2 linked regions of the Homo sapiens genome follow. The protein of the gene in region 1 purifies or fractionates together with the protein of each later gene. This does not show direct contact. Each region holds a gene or a part of one and is shown on either strand. Other genes may lie near its edges.

What was found. The genes of interacting proteins can lie anywhere in the genome.
Region 2: the proteins of LRP1B (region 1) and HRG purify together in Homo sapiens (affinity purification with mass spectrometry, with the first as the bait; one study listed by BioGRID). This does not show direct contact.

Annotation. Positions count from the first base shown.
Region 1 is NC_000002.12:140,353,127-140,357,381, reverse strand, and holds part of LRP1B (low-density lipoprotein receptor-related protein 1B precursor), read left to right. Parts: intron 1-905; coding exon 906-1,040; intron 1,041-4,255. UniProt on the Homo sapiens protein: Potential cell surface proteins that bind and internalize ligands in the process of receptor-mediated endocytosis.
Region 2 is NC_000003.12:186,672,508-186,676,394, forward strand, and holds part of HRG (histidine-rich glycoprotein precursor), read left to right. Parts: intron 1-279; coding exon 280-360; intron 361-2,581; coding exon 2,582-2,683; intron 2,684-3,887. UniProt on the Homo sapiens protein: Plasma glycoprotein that binds a number of ligands such as heme, heparin, heparan sulfate, thrombospondin, plasminogen, and divalent metal ions. Binds heparin and heparin/glycosaminoglycans in a zinc-dependent manner.

The DNA of each region.
Region 1 (4,255 bases):
TTTAATTTATGCATCTAAAACTTTCCTCATTTAGGGATGAAGCAATACCCACCAGGATATGGCTGCATGTGTCTAAACCATGGTATCATTCCACTGACCTATTTTAACTAATTGCAAAATATTCAAGTCAGTGGGGTTACAACGATAATAATTAAAGTTCTCACATTTCTCAAAAATTTGATTTAAGTAACTTAGAGATGATATGATGTCTCTATAATAATGTCCCTCTCATTTATTTAAAAGAGAAGGCCTTCTAAAATGTTTTCCTGAATGGGAGATAAAGTAATAAAATTGCAACTGCTATCCTGGAAATTACAAGTAACTTTTTGTCTGTCCTAAAATGTTGCAGCTTATGACCAACCATTATGAGCACATTACACACTCAAATGTTACTCTTCATATGTATGTCCAGCATAAAAAAATGAAATTTAAACTGCTGATTTAGACAACTTGCTTGAGTAACTTAGCAGTACCCTTGATTGAGTTTACAAATATTAAGCTTAGGTTAGCAATAAATGCCTAAATTTCTAGGTAGCTTATAGGAAATGCTTTGGCTCTCAGAGAAGGATGTAGTACTCATATATCGTACTATAATAAAGATAGCCTGTCATTAGAATCATTGACTCCTGACTTATTTTTAAAAAGTGTTACAGCTTAACAGCAGCTCTAAATATCAACTGTTAGCAGCTTGGTCTAATCTGTATTTAATGTTAATGAGTTTAGTTTTTATACTTCTATACATTTATAAGACATGGGGGCTTATATGGAGAGAAGACCGTAACCTTGTACATTCAAAAAGAGTTATCTGTGGAATAATAAATACCATTTCAAACATTTTTTAAAAGTTAACTCCCCACTTCAGGAATTAGAATTATATTAGTTTTGATCATATTTTTAAATCCCAGCTCCTACTGAATATACCTGTGAAGATAATGTGAATCCATGTGGAGATGATGCATATTGTAATCAAATAAAAACATCTGTTTTCTGTCGCTGTAAGCCTGGATTTCAGAGAAACATGAAAAACAGACAATGTGAAGGTAGAGTACTTTTCTTCAACAGTTTGCTCATAAATCTTTGGGTTATGAAGATTCCCAAGACTTCTAAATTGTGAGATCACAGGGGATTGACTTTCATCAAAATGGTGTGTATCTACGGGATACCATTTCACTTATGAGAATGAAAGTCTCTGGGGTCAAGAGCTTGTTTGTGGAGCTAAGCTAACCACGACAGAGGCTACAAAGCTTTTTCTATAGCAAATTCAGAGCTGCAGGAATTTCAATTCTATTGCTACAATACTGTTTTGAAATGCAAATAACGAAATTCCTGGTTCAGGAACTATTGGAGAATTAGTCTTGCTTCATGAAAAAATATGTTTATGATGACCCATTTCTCTTGAGTGTGGAATTTGCAATACTGGAATAGGTAAATCACATTTAGAGAGTCATGGGCTTTTGTCCTAAAACCATGTTTTAAATAGATCATAATGTATCTTTAAAAATTCAAAGTCAGGATCTACATAAATCTGTCAACTTACTTGAGATCATTTAAAAATTGAGCATGTAGGATAGCCAAAATCTTATAGTAAGTAAGTAAATATAATTACATCAGTGTTCTAACTATAGAACCATGAAATACAGACCCATATGCACTTTCTGCAAGTTTCTCCAATAAAACTGCTATTTGTATTCATATTCATATTAATGTAAGTACAGCCAAACCTAAAATAACTAAGTCTGGCTTATCCAGGCTAAATTCAAGTCTTTAAGTGCTTTTACCTACCAGCTTGCTTTTGTTATGTCTCTTTGTGATATTTTGAGGTTAAGAAAAATGATTCTACTTCGTGTTAATCAAAATGGAATTATTTAAATGAATTGATTCTACTCACCCAAAAGGGGAAAAAGTGTAGTCACGTCATGTTTATCTACATTTTGAGTTAAATGTGTATTTGGATTATTCGTGACATTTGATTGTTCCATTACTATGAGACTGAAAGATGACAACCTAGGTTTTCTGTGTTTTAGTTAAAAAATGAATTATCTTTCAAACTATGGTATTTATTTTTCCCAGGCTCTTTCTATCAATTACATATAAACACACACACACACAATTCTTTCAATATTTTAATTTCAATAACATTTATTTTCTAATATTTGTCAGTGGGTTTTTTCTGTATATATGTACTAAATTTAGAAATTATATTATTAAAGTTTTCTTAATTTTTAATTACATTCCACAGCAAATATAACCTGCACACTACATTCTTTATTTTAAATTGCTATGAATCCACTTTTTTGTATTATTTTGTAGGACAGACGAGTAACTTCTGAACTCTAATAAAATGTTCATCTATTTTTAATAAATAAAGTTTTGATTTTAAGGAAAATAGTTCTATTTCAGTGTCAAAGAAGGGTAAGACATAATTGGATTCTATAATCCAAAAATTTAAATTTGTTTGTGCCCTTCACTTATGTATCTGAAAAAATGCATAAGAAATTGCTATTTGATGTTAAAGCCCAAACACTTCAATTAGAATATCTAAAGGGAAAAAAGTAAAGAGGAATGGTGGAAGAAAATTAGAAGGGGATTAACAGTTGCTGAGTGCCAGGTACTGTTTTGGGTACTAGGCATGTGTGGAATTCCTCCATCCCCTTCAAAAGCTCATGATCCAGGCTTTCTAGAGATGAGGCGAAAATGATGGTTCAGGCCAGTATAATGACAAGTGAGGAAGTTGAGGTTGTATGAAATCATGCAGAATACTGCTTATTTGGATTCTGTACCAAAGGGAAACCATAGTGACAAATAACTGCCGGTTCAAAGTTACAGGGGCTGAACAAATCAGAAATATTTGTTGTAATCGTGATGGTTAAGTACTGACAAGATGCATTCTACTTCATTCCTGTAAAATATTTATTAAAAACAACGAAATACACTTTTCTGCATCTCTTTACTCTACATTTCAATCAAATAGCAATGTGTGGTCATGAAAATGCTTATGTGTTCTTAGGCAAAGTATCACAGTAAAGTCAACAAAATCAGAAAACCTGAGTTTAAGCCTTGACGTTGTGATTTACAAGTGTCTCTACCTCTGAGCCCTTAGAACATTGTTTGTGTGCTACGCAAAAGATAGTTATTCTTACTGTGCTGATTCTTAAGTTCTCTAATTCAAGGGAAGGATTTATCTCACAGATTTATTAGGTAATTAGGAGATTATAAGTGATAAAATGAGGCAGGGGAAATATGCTGGCTAAACACAAAAGTAGAGGAGGAAAAGAGAGGAAAATTAGATAATTCCCTAGAATCACCTGGCCTCAATCCTGGCTCTTCATAAGCCCTTAAAATTAGAGTCATGTGCCAAGCTACATGACTCTGATTAAATCACATGAATACTGCCTGTGATTTATTTATTTATGCTAGTGATTTAGAGGTATTTATTCATATATAGGCATGCAGATTTTGCTTGCTTAATTCACATCACATAACCTCAATACAGCCCTTCTTGTTACGTAGTCACTTCATATATATGAGTCCAGAAGTGTGTTAGAGATGTGCCCAAATCTTTGTTCTCTGCCAGTCATTGTGCAAAATCTGGCAATAAAAAAGGAATGTATCATAATTTATGTCCTCAAGGGAATATGAATATGTAACCACATTCCTGAAATATAAGCAACAGTGTAAGAGAGAAACACCAGGAGAGCAAAAACTGGAGAAACTAAGGATGAATCATCACTCCCATATATGGTTGGAGACCAAGGAAGGCTTTATTTCAGGTGGATCTTGAAAGATGAGTAGAAATTCTGTATGGAAAAGTGGGCAAGGGCATTACGGGATGAAAGAATAGCCCATGATACCTTCGAAGGCATGGAGGTAGGTCATCAGAAACAGCTTAAAAGAAAACCTCAAGACAGGTCTATTTGCGTGAATGGAAATCTATACAACAAACCCCCATGGCACAAGTTTATCTAGGTAGCAAACCTGCACTTGTATCCATGAACTTAAAAGGTAAAAAAATAAATAAGTAAAAATTTTAAGAAAGAAAAAAGAAAGCCCCAGGGAAGTTTGAAATTGAAGCTTTAATATTTTAAGTGGATTAATAAAAGCAATGACAATTGATAAATCTTCTACTACAAATATTGTGAAAAATGATTATACCTTCAAAAATATGACACAGCAGGTCACAGATTAAAGATGTGAAAGGACAATAAAGCTAGTAATAAGTTAAAAATAATTTTGGCTTTTTTGAAACGTGGTAAGA
Region 2 (3,887 bases), on another chromosome or scaffold:
AATGAAAACTCTGGGAAGAAGTTGGAGTGCAGGAGAGGTGATTTTTCACACTCTACTTTATCATATATTTATTATTTGAACCTTTTCAGTGAACTGGTATTCACCTTATCACTTAGGTGATACATTTTTAAAAGGCAGAAACCATTTTAAAAAATGACACATACTGGTGATTTTGAATTCTCATACTGCCTTAAAAAATATTGAATGGTAGTTATCTACTGCTTTTTTTTCCTTTTTCTTTGTCTGTTCTTGAAACTATTTTGATCCCATCTGTTCTAGAGAGGAGGGGAAGGAACTGGTTACTTCGTGGACTTCTCTGTGCGGAACTGCCCCAGACACCATTTCCCCAGACACCCCAATGTGAGTATAAGAAATGTCTGTGATCGTTGACTAGAGTCACAGAGAAAAAAGAAAGAGAAGAAGGAGAAGGAGAAGGAGAAGGAGAGGAAGGAGAAGAAGGAGAAGAGGAATGAGAAGGAGAAAATGAGGAGGAGGAGAAGGAGGAAGAAATGTCTGTGAAATACAAAGTATCATCTGGGAAGCACTTAGTACCTGCCAGGCACTCTTCTAAGTGATTTACACATCAGATAACTTATTGTTTTGTTTTGTTTTTGAGATGGAGTTTCGCTCTTGTTGCCCAGGTTGGAGTGCAATGGCACAGTGTCGGCTCACTGCAACCTCCGCCTCCCGGGTTCAGGCGATTCTCCTGCCTCAGCCTCCGGAGTAACTGGGATTACAGGCATGCACCACCACGCCCAGCTAATTTTTGTATTTTTAGTAGAGATGGGGTTTCACCATGTTGATCAGGTTGGTCTCAAACTCCTTATCTCAGGTGTCCACCCACTTCGGCTGGGATTACAAATCAAAGTGCTGGGGTTACAGGCGCAAGCCACCATGCCCAGCCTATGATAACTTATTAACCCTCACACTACCATATGAGATAGATACCATTTTTAATCCCAAATTAGCAGATAGGGGAACTGAGGCACAGAGAACATAAGCGAACCATAAGAACATGATTTTATAATATACATGATATATACCTAAACTTAAAACTAAGTTTCTAACTGATTAGGATTAAAGGCTTAGTTAGAACTATAGCAGTTCGTACTAAGACCCTACGCCAAGTGGTTTTATTAATTCCACATCATCACACTCACAGGAATCCCACTTGACAAATGAGGAGGTAACTGAAAATCAGCAAAGGAAAGGTCTTGCCGATGTTCACAACCAAGCTGAGATTAAAACTTAGTTATTCTCATACAAAGTCCAGTGGGATTTTTCCTCTAATCATTTACAAATAGATTCCCATGTACCTGCCAGAAGACATTATTAATACCACCTGGCATTTGCATGGTGACCTACAGTTAAAGAAACACCTCCACATCTGTTATTGCCAGGAGAGCCTCATGAAAATCCTGCTGACAAGGAAAAGCAAGTATCTGCCTACATTTCCTGTGACAAGGGGACCTGAAATTAAAACCACTTACCTAAAGGCACTTAGCTAGAGAGTGTTAGGAAATGGAATTTTAATTATGATGCCAAGTCCAGGATTTTTCTGAGGTTTAACAACACATTCTCCCTGGTCAAAAGGGAGAAACCATCCATTAGTACCTTTGTTAGCTCTTCTAATGTCCACACTGAACCAGGTCTAGAAACCTTCTTAGCGCCCACCAGAAAAGACACCTCCCTCCCCTACTCCTATGGCCAACAAACCCTTCATGATCTTGGTGTGGATAATGTAAACCCAGAGTTGAAGCACCAGAGCTGAAGAGGAGGCTCAGGGGTAAGTGTTTTACAGCATCCTCTTGTTTAATTAATCCCTCCCACAACCTGTGAGTACATAGTATTATCCCCATTTTACAATGGCTGACTTTCAGAAATCTTTTGTAACTTTCCCAAACTCAGACAACTAGGAAATGGAGAAGCCAGGATTAACATAGGTCTCTCTGATTCCCAAACTGTACTCAGAACCTCAATGCTTAGCAATTTCTTCTAGCAGACAGCCGTCCTCTTGTCCTAGTCGATCTTTCACAGGTGGGTTTAGGAGCATCTGGAGCACAGGAGTGGCAGCCAGTTGTAGCCCTGGCACTTGGGTGGAGTCAGCAGACACTTGCCTTGACAATGTCCATGAAAACCCATCTTTATGCTATACAGATGCCCTCCTGTCCAACACTTTCCTCCAAGGGACCAGCTGAAGTTGTAAAAATCCCTCTTTGACACCATTCCTCATTGTCCTAGGCACAGGCAACTGAGGTCTCCAGTGCAGAAGGGTTGGCCTAAAGGCAAGGCAGCAATGATGTGGTTTTCCTCATCATTTCCATCACCCATGGGGAAGCCCAGTGCTGGTGCCTGCTCATGAAAAAAACCACAGCAACTTTAGTGATACCCTTCACCACCTGCACTTTCCCCAAAGTGTTAACAAGGAAAGATTGCTGAACGACTGGTGGGAATATCTGATCATATTACCCTGATTTTTCTAAAGCACTTCTTCCTTTTCTGAATGTCTGGAAGCTAACTCTGGCTGGTCATCTTCACACCACCTGGACACACACACTAACAGCTCCTCATTCCTTTGTAGGTCTTTGGATTCTGCAGAGCAGATTTGTTCTATGATGTAGAAGCCTTGGACTTGGAAAGCCCGAAAAACCTTGTCATAAACTGTGAAGTCTTCGACCCTCAGGTGGGTTGTCTAAGCAGACTTTGTCATGGCAGTGCCAGATTAAGTGACATACGTACACAAATAGTGTTGTTGCTTCCTAAAGCTCTATGAGTGGGTGTGTGTGTGTGTGTGTGTGTGTGAGAGAGAGAGAGAGAGAGAGAGACAGAGACAGAGACAGAGAGAGGGAGACAGGGAGAGAGAGAAAGAGAGAGACAGACAGACATGCAAGAAAAAAGATACAGAGAGTATCCCACAACTGGGGAAAGGAGTGCAATTGCCAGATTACACAAAAAGTATGAAAACTTTTCCAAGAATTGAAGAGGGGTAACAATTGGCAGAAAATTAAAATCATGTCCAATTCAACCAAACTTGAAGGAATTTGAAAATGCTCTTTGTAGTCGGGACTCTAGTGCTGAGACTTAGTCATTCCTAAGCTTATATTATTGGGCATAGAATCTAAGAGGAATATATCAGCCTCAAATTTATTATGTAAATGTATATAAAATAAGATGCAAAACCATATTTTGCATCTGTCTCAGAAATCTTTGGTCTATTTTTTACATGAGTACAAAGATTTGCTTCACGAAATTTTTCATATCAGAAACAAAACTTAAAATAATCCAAACATCCAATCCCAAGTTAAAAAAAAGAAAAAGGAACAAAGGGCAGGATTGTCACCATGAACATGGCTCTGTCTTTTTTTTTTTTTTTTTTTTTGAGAAGGAGTTTTGCTCTTATTGCCCAGGCTGGAATACAATGGTGCCATCTCGGCTCACCACAACCTCTGCCTCCTGGGTTCAAGCGATTCTCCTGCCTCAGCCTCCTGAGTAGCTAGGATTACAGGCATGCGCCACCATACCTGGCTAATTTTGCATTTTTAGTAGAGAAGGGGTTTCTCCATGTTGGTCAGGTTGGTCTCAAACTCCTGACCTTAGGTGATCCACCTGCCTCAGCCTCCCAAAGTTCTGGGATTACAGACATGAGCCACCGTGCCCGGCCTCTGTAGCTATTTTTTAAAAAATTAAACTCTGAACAAGGAAGAGAGAGAAGAGGTCAAGTGTTCAGCCTTTAGGAGTAAGGGATGTTGATACCATCAAGCCTCAGTTAAGAATATCAGTTATAAGGCACTAGTTTTCCAGTGTTGGTCTACAGATGGGTGCCAGGTCATAATATTGTTTCACCACTCTGTGTAGTAAAAATGAAAAAAAAATAAGGATAATGAAGT